2 separate regions of the Homo sapiens genome follow, and region 2 is linked to region 1. Evidence: fine-mapped expression QTL. A gene starts in region 1. The other region holds a variant in brackets. All regions are shown on one strand. Distances are from middle to middle. Region 1 holds the start of ID2 (inhibitor of DNA binding 2). Region 2 overlaps LOC105373411 (a long non-coding RNA gene).

What was found. PIP is the estimated chance that this variant, and not a neighbour inherited with it, causes the effect.
Region 2: its variant is the best candidate, but not a certain one, in a credible set for the expression of ID2 in whole blood (INTERVAL, PIP 0.64).

Annotation. Positions count from the first base shown.
Region 1 is chr2:8,679,641-8,683,962 of GRCh38, reverse strand. It overlaps ID2 (inhibitor of DNA binding 2), which reads right to left and starts at 1,907. Exons shown (of 3, transcript NM_002166.5): 1 at 1,450-1,907; 2 at 1,057-1,120; 3 at 1-278. The coding sequence starts at 1,797. The coding sequence ends at 1,064. It overlaps ID2-AS1 (ID2 antisense RNA 1), which reads left to right and starts at 2,100. Exons shown (of 4, transcript NR_110154.1): 1 at 2,100-2,136. RefSeq lists enhancers at 1,668-1,717, 2,205-2,708.
Region 2 is chr2:8,646,694-8,651,120 of GRCh38, reverse strand. The region is part of intron 1 of LOC105373411 (a long non-coding RNA gene); the gene reads left to right. Among named protein-coding and RNA genes, the nearest start is that of ID2-AS1, 33 kb to the left of the region's middle. The variant A/TTAATTTA (reference allele first, on the strand shown) is at 1,855.

The DNA of each region.
Region 1 (4,322 bases):
CTCCCCATGGTGGGAATAGTATATAAAGAAAACCTTCCAACTGCAGAAAGGGCATTTAAAAGTCTTTTTCATAAATAACGAATATCACAGTCCAAGTAAGAGAACACCCTGGGAAGATGATCATTCTTAGTTTTCCTTCCATTTTTTTTTTCTTTTTAAAAAGGTCCATTCAACTTGTCCTCCTTGTGAAATGGTTGAAAAATAAGTTCAGCACTTAAAAGATTCCGTGAATTTGTTGTTGTTGTTGTTGTGCAAAGAATAAAAGAAATCATGAACACCTGCGAAAGAGTGGGGGAGAAAGGCATGTTTAAGAGAATGTAACCTAAGGGCAGAGGCGGGCGACTGGCGCCGGGAGGAAGCCACAGTTTGAACATTTAACCAAACACTCAAAGATTGGGCAAACCCTGGCGTCCAGATGCAACACACACACTCGCCTCGACAGCGCAAATTAAACATTAAAATAGCAGAGACTCAAGGGAAAAACTTCCCAACCCAATCTCCTATTTGGATCTCCAACAGCAGTGCTACAGGCGCCAGTCTGCTTCTCGTAACAATTATTTGATTGAAAACAGCCCTTTAGTTAACAGATAGGGAAGTCTGGGATCCCACATCACAGGGTTGAAGGCACAGGGTAGCAATCCTCAACTAGCCCAGAGAATCCCAGAGGACTATAGTTTTAGGGAAGGAGGATCACTATGGAATTTGTGGCGGTAAGATTAATTACAGTGGAGGTTAGTACCTCATAGTACCAGAGGACTCGTAGGAAGATCCAGGGCATTACATTTGCTACAAAGCCAATACACACGTTCCTCGGCCGCCTTCGTAGTAAGTTATTGGCATCATTTCCTTTTAAAGGAAAATGTTCTGTGATCTCGAGCACCCAAAGCTACAAGCTCCTTCATGTCTAGTGAGACAATGTAGTACGGGTAACACCGCGAAGTAAGCATGCATTTACCAAATCAGACATTTTATAGATACACAAGCAAAAACACATGCGCGCGCGCGCACACACACCGAGGGGCAGTTTACCCACGGGTGGCACAAGCAAACACTCACCGCTTATTCAGCCACACAGTGCTTTGCTGTCATTTGACATTAACTCAGAAGGGAATTCAGAAGCCTGGAAAGAAAGAGGATAAAGAGTACGAGGTTAAGACAATGTTAAGTAGAAAGGGTTTTTTTTTTTTTTTTTTTTTTTTTGTAGTCCACAGACCAGCAAGTTCCATTAAACACGTTTATGGTAACAATTCAGATTTAAAGACAGACGCATTAACATGTCAGAACTTACTAGCAATTTCACGCACAGCTCAATCTACAGCAGATTCTGAAGAAAATAAAGTTAAATAGCTCATACGAAAGTCACCGTCTGGGCTACGGATCTCCTAGTGACAGCCCAGACGACCGCGGGAGTGTGCGGCGGCGGGGCGGGGACCCCGGAGCAGGTCTTACCTGCAAGGACAGGATGCTGATATCCGTGTTGAGGGTGGTCAGCGGCGTCCTGGACGCCTGGTTCTGCCCGGGTCTCTGGTGATGCAGGCTGACAATAGTGGGATGCGAGTCCAGGGCGATCTGCAGGTCCAAGATGTAGTCGATGACGTGCTGCAGGATTTCCATCTTGCTCACCTTCTTGTTCTGGGGGATGCTGGGCACCAGCTCCTTGAGCTTGGAGTAGCAGTCGTTCATGTTGTATAGCAGGCTCATCGGGTCGTCCACAGGGGTTTTGCTCCGGGAGATGCCCAGGCTGTGGTCCGACAGGCTGTTTTTCCTAACGGACCTCACGGGACTGAAGGCTTTCATGCTGACCGCGAGGGAAGGCGAGACCGGGAGGGAGCTGGCTGCCCTGAAGCTCAGGCCGCCGCTGCCGCCTGCTGAGCTAGCTGCGCTTGGCACCGGGCTCGGCTCAGAATGAAGCCCGAGCCCGGCGGGGCGGCTTTTATCCGCACTCGCCGGGGCCACACGCTGGAGCTTCCCTTCGTCCCCATTGGCGGAAGGTGGCACGTCTATCAAGACGAGCGGGCGCTTCCATTGGTGGGCGCGGGCGCGGGGCGTGGGCTTGGTTCTTCCGCGTTCGCAGCCAATCCCCGCGGGGTGGGCGGGGCGCGAGCCCAGCTGGGGTGGTAAATAGAGTACAGTACAGTAAGTGCGGGGCTGGCGGGGGGCGGGGGGCGGGGAGCGGCGGGCGGGGGGCGGGGAGGAGGGAGGCGGGAGGAGGGAGAGGAGGAGGGAGGAGGAAGAGAAGGGAAGATGGGGGAGGGGAAGGGGGAGGGGAAGGGGGAGGGGAAGGAGGAGGGAGAAGGGGGCAGACCCTGGGCGCCTAAATATGCATTCTTAATTCTAATTCCAAGCGCGCGGCGGGACCCTTGCCCTGGGGGTGTTCCCAGACCAAGCCCTACACACCTTAGAGCTGTCGGCAGCTCTAAAATCACAGCTACACGGGCGAGTTCAGCACCGCAGGGGGGAAGCCACAGTTCACTGCAACCCATCGGAGGGAGAGCGTGAGGAAAGATAGAAAGCATTTCAGAAGAAAGTGAAAACGCAAATTAGGTTGTCACTGAAGAGTCACGTTTGTAGAGTGAGTTCGTCTCTTCAGATAAGGAAAAGTTATGTTAACACAAACAAACCACCCACGCACGCATTCGACGACAGGCTTAGTGTGGGCTTTTGCAACCCGGAGCAGCGCGGGAGGCATTACTGTAAACTCAAGAAAATGAGTACTTATTGCAAACCATGCCCAACCTCACCGGTCGCTAAGGAGCTCTCACAGGCAGGGCGCTTTCAGGGTTCCTTTTCAAGAAGGAGGCAGGGCTATTATAATGATCGTATTAATCGGAAATAATTAGGAGAATTTGCATATTGAAACTACATTTACATACACTGCCCTTGAAAGGCTGCCGGTCTGTGCCCTTCCGTGTAGGTGGCAAAGTAATGTGATTAATTATGCACTAATTGTGATTTCTGGTGTCACATTCCAACACCTAGAGGAGTTCCAAAGCTTTGTGACAGATAGGTGGCCCTAGCCATTGATAGACATCTTCACACTAAGGAAAAAAAAATATTCTGTCATATGAGGTTTGGAATCTTTTCAGCACTAGTACTGAATACGGGTTCAAGGTTTTTTTTTTTTTTTTTGGCTGAAAATCTTTTAAGAACTCGTTCTTTCAGTCTAAGTTTTAAAAAGTTTGCAGCTATTTACTTAAATACCTTAATTTTCACATAATTGTAGCTTATCTAGAATTCTGTTTTGACCACAGTGTGTCAGTTTCTTGTTTTTGAAAATATTTGCTCCAGAAAACAATGAACTAGAAAACTCCAGGAAAGGCAATATTCAAATCTTATTTACTTTCTGCCTCAATCTCTACCTCCTTTGCATTTCAGAAAGCGGAAGGGGCAGGCCTAGAAGCTGAAAGAAAAGCTCGATAATGGGGAAACAGTGTTTTTTCCTTCAATTAATGATTAATTTCTCAGCTGGTGGGGCCAGCAGTCTCTGACCGTCACGTGACAGCTATGCGCCCCATGACGCCTCTCCAGGGAGGCAGAGTGGGTGGCACTGAGGTGGAGCTCACCTTCCTGAAATTCAGCCCCCTCAGTTTGGAGGAAGGAGGTAAACTGTTTCCTGTCCAGCCAGAAGTTTGCGGAGGGCCTTCCCCAGGCCAGGCAATGCTGCCTGCGACTCTGTCCCTGACAGCGTTGGATGCACCGTATCTCTTCTGATATTAAGTCTGGAAGTGATTTACTATCCGAGTCCTCCCACAGTTCGAGCCTTTTGATGTACTTTGTGTGCATGTGTTTCTGTCACATACGTGCCACAGTGGAACAGATTTTGTTTTGACACTATTTTGGTTCATGATGTTATACTTTGACTATTTTACAATAATAGCCAATGTAAACAAACATCTTTGGGATTCTCAAATTATTACTTATGATTCTTGGACATTGCAGCTCTTCGATACTGACGCATTCCTAGCTTTTTCCAAGGACACCGTATGTTAACATCCGTGCCAGCCTCATTATCCCCACAGCCAGGCTCTGGGTTGGGCGGTAATGAGCATTGTGCGGTTTCACTTTACACTTTGCAAAGTTGATTAAGGCAGTGCCTTCTCCCATGATCATTTTTGTACCCTGATGTAGTAAAATGGCTAAATATGGTGAAAGTTTTCTGGTGTTTCTTTCTTTAGCTGCCATGTCAGAGTCCAGTCTGCCTGGCTGTGTTGAATTCGATTCTATTGGCACGCTACCCAGTTTTACATTCATTTAAAGATCATTTAAAGGGGATTACGAAGCTGTATAAGTTAATGATTTAAACGAGGCCTAAGTTACTAGTG
Region 2 (4,427 bases), 33 kb after region 1:
TGACCCCTCTGCCCCATCTCTGTCTGGCGAGTCTCCTCCTCCAAGGGTCTATTCAAATGTGCCCTTTGCTAGTAGCCTTTCTAATTGCTCCTCTGAGGACCTCCGTGCTCCCACTGCATCTGTGTGCCCCTCTGCCCAGCCCCAGTGGCTCAGCTTGGTACCATTCCCCACGGCTCGTCTGCAGCCATTTCCTCACCAGAAGGCAAGCTCTTCAAGACCCCATGCTTTATTTATGCCATGCATGATTTTCTTAGTGTGTGGGTATGTTGGTCATGAGGGGCATCCATTGAATGATCAAAATAGTGTTATTGGATGCTTAAAAGATTTTTCTAAGTATTAATATACCATGAGTTTGAAACAAGTAACTGGCCAAAGGTGTGTCCTCTCCTCTATTCTGTGTTTCCTGGACCTTCCATGGGTCCCTTCATGGATCCCTTCCACGGGTCCACCAATTGCCAGTCTCTGGTTGGCTGCTTGTGGTGGGGCCAGGGAGGAGTGGAAAGGTTACCACTGAGACTGCAGGAAATTTGGAAAACCAAGGTCAAATAGGAAGTCTTGTGGCTGGACGGGGAGCAGGGGAAGGAGCTAGGGGATGTTCTTGGAGGGCACCTCCTCTTCCCCACCCCCTGCAGAGCTCATTCAACAAATATTGGTGACCAGCTGCTGGGGTGAACTGGATTGGAGATAAAGGAGTTGTGCTGTCACATGGGACAGGAAGGAGGAGCCGCCAAGAAAGGCTGGGACCTGAGGGAAGGAGTGCGCCGAGGGGAGTGAGTGAGGGGTGGCATCTTAAGGCACCCAGTGCCTGGATGGGGGAGATATTTTGACAGAAAGGAGGAAAGTGGTGATTATGTGACATTTCCCTAAAAAGTAGATCTTCAGAGTGATCTGTGTGTGTGTGTGTGTGTGTGTGCATGCACATATATAATATATATACACACATATTAGACATATATATTATATACACACAATATACACATTATACACATACATATACACATGCATATATAATATATACACATATATACACGTTATACATATACACATGTAATATACACATACATATATACACATGCGTATATGTAATATATACATCTATACACACAAGTTATACACATATACACACATATGTAATACACATGCTATACACATACACATATGCATATAATCACATATACGCACATACACATACATACACACATATACACACATACACATACGTACACACATATAATATATACATATATACACATACATATACACATGTTATATACACACATATACACGTTATACTCATACATATATACACATGTGCACATATACACGTACATATACACATATATAGAAATAATATACACATACACATATATACACATGCATGTATAATATACATATATATACACGTTATACACATATAGTATATAGACACATATATAATATACACATGTCATACATATAATATATACACATGTTACACACATGTAATATATACACACATATACATACACACATGCATATATAATATATACACATGTTATACATATACACATAAATATATACACATAATGTACACATGTTATACAATCATACATATATGCACATGTATATATATACACGTTATACCTACACACATATATATATACATGTTATACACATACATATATACACACATGCATATATAATATATGCACATATATATGCACATTATACCTATACACATATACACACATACGTTATACGCTCATACATACACATATATGTACACATATATAATGTATCAATGTATAATTTATGTTACATGTAAAATATATGTTATGTATAAAATAAATATATATTATGTACAAATTATAATTT[A/TTAATTTA]TATACATATAAATATATACATTTATATATAAACATATATGTATATGTTTTCTTTAAACTCAGGTTAAAGAAATAGGAAGTTAAATGTTATGGGAAGACTATTGGTAATTCTAGCCAAAGTAACTTGCTAATATTTTTAGTTTTACTGCTCTGGAATGCTTAAGGAAGATAAATGGGTTTTATTCTGAGACTCCAGTGCACAGATTGACTATTATATGCTGGACTTCAGGGAAGCAGTGAGCAATGATTTAGGGAGGTCATAAAATGGGGAAAGCGAAAACCAAAACACAAACACTGGCAAATTGGAATCCAAGAGATGATTGGGGCCTGCCAAGGATGGTTGAGTTATCCGTTACTGTATGACAGAGCCCCCACCCCCTGCCCAAAATGTAACAGCCTGGCATAACAGCCGCTTCAGGGGTTGGTGTGTGGGTCAGCAATTCGGGACAGCCTGACCTGCTAGAGACCAAGAGGCCTCTGGGGGCCTCAAGGCTGCTGCTGGGGAGCCGGGCCATAAAGGCCATAAAGGGGGCTCTTTGTGTGGACTTTTATCATCCCGAGTCCACCCTGGGTTTCCGTACGTGGCACCTGTCTTCCAAGATGGCAAAGGTGGAGGCTGCCGTCATCCCACTGCCTCACTTTGCTCAATTGCAGCAGCTATAGCAGCCACAGGCCAGCCCAGATTCAGGGGATGTGGACCCCCCTGCGACGGGAGCAAGGGCAAAGCTATGCTTCTGACAGCTAAGCCCACAAAGGGGATCTTTGGAAAGGGGATTTCCAGAGGAAGGTGGCTGACAATTTCACCAGAGAGAATTTGGGGTCCTAAGGGGAGGTCTGAGATGAGGGTGCACATTTTGGGTTTTTCATGGGGAACAGGGGAGTTGTGGAGTTGCATGGGGCCATGTCCCCCAGCAAATGCCCCTCACATGTGCACAAGGGGTGCTGTGCACCAACTTCTACTTATAGGCCTACTGCCTCGCTGTGCAGGACATGAGTGACTGGAAGGAAGCTCATGGAAGGAAGTTCCATGGAAGGAAGGATACGTGCAGGGTAAAGGTGGAGAGACCCAGAACAGGCATCAGTGAACCTCATCCCCTGGAGGAAAATGTGTCCCCAAGAAGCTTCTAGGCCACTTAGGAGGCAGTGGCTCTGAAGTCAAGGCAGGGCCCTCACTGTGTTACAGGATCTTTTAGGGGGTTGCTTTTCTGGCCAGAAACCTCTGTGGCTGGTGGCGCCTTTGCCCAAGTTCTTGTCCTGTATCCAGGAAGAATGAGGTATGCAGACAAGTGGAGGGTGAGCAAGACAAAGAGAAGCTTTATTGAGTGTTAGAGCAGCTCTGAGGAGGCTGCAGGGGGCAGTTCCTTCTGTAGGCAGGTAGTCTTGTCCAGTGTTCAGCAAGCAGCAGAAAGGAGGCCCTGGAGAGGGTGGTTCCTCTCTGCAGGCAGGTCCCCATTGACTTTCCAGCTCTCAGCAGAGAGGGTAGATCATCTCTGCAGTTGGTCCTCCAGTGCCCAGTCATCTTTCCATCCTCTGTCCTCTACCCTGCTCTGGCTGAGCCTGGGGCTTTTATGGACCTCAGAGGGGAGGAGGTACATGCTGATTGGTTCATGCATGGCCATGGGTGGGGTCAAAAAAGGCACCACATTCCTCCACTCTGGTGCAGGGATCTGGCAGCCCTTGGCCTGAAGATGGGGTCTTTCCAGGGACCTGCCTCCTTCCACCCAGGAATCTGTCTGCTTCCTGCTGCTGTTCATGGCACCCCAGCTTGGCCCAGACTTTGCTCCAAGATCGGAGCAGGTATCAATAGCAGGGAGAAGCCAGGCAGCTGGAGCAGGCACTTCTGAGCCTGCAAGGGCAGGAGGGCCTTCCCAGGTCCCCAAGAGTGCAGAGATGCCTGAGGCTGAAGCCGCTGGTTTGGGTGGCTGCAGTGGCACCTGGGAGGGCAGGGCTCCTGCCTGTTCCTGGCCCTCCAAGACCACGGGAGGCCCAGGTCTACTGCCTGGCTTGGGCAGCTGCAGCCATGCCTGTGAGGACGGGGCTGCTGCCTGCTCCTGGCTCCTGCTGGCTCCATGGAGCATGCAGCCCCAGCTGTGCCCCCTTGCAGCATGGGCTGGGGGCTCCTGATCCTTGCTGGGCCCCAAGCCAGTGTCCGGGGCAGGGGCGACATCTCCATGAGCTCTCCCCATTGCCCTTGTGCTCCAGGATGGCCTGGGATGGAGTGGATCTCGGGCCCTGGGCTCGGCCATCAGAAGTGGCAAGCTTGGCAGCCATCTTGACTCAGGGCAGACCCCAGGGACCCGGCCCTGGATGGCCTGTGTAGAGCCTTCTTCTGAAGTGCAGGAACCTGGCACCCTAGGCGGTGTGGGCACAGTGGCTGTGCCACTGGCCAGGTCCCAAAAGTGGTTGCCACTTCCACTTCCTGTCCTGGATCCCCAAAGTGCAGCCCCAGCTCTGCACTGGGGCCCCTTTCTGCCCAGCCATGCTGCTCCCCTGCTGCACTGCTCCCCCTCCTGAACGGGATTGGGCTCGGCCCCTTGCAGCCACCCCCAGGGCAGTGGGCTGTGGGGGGCCCT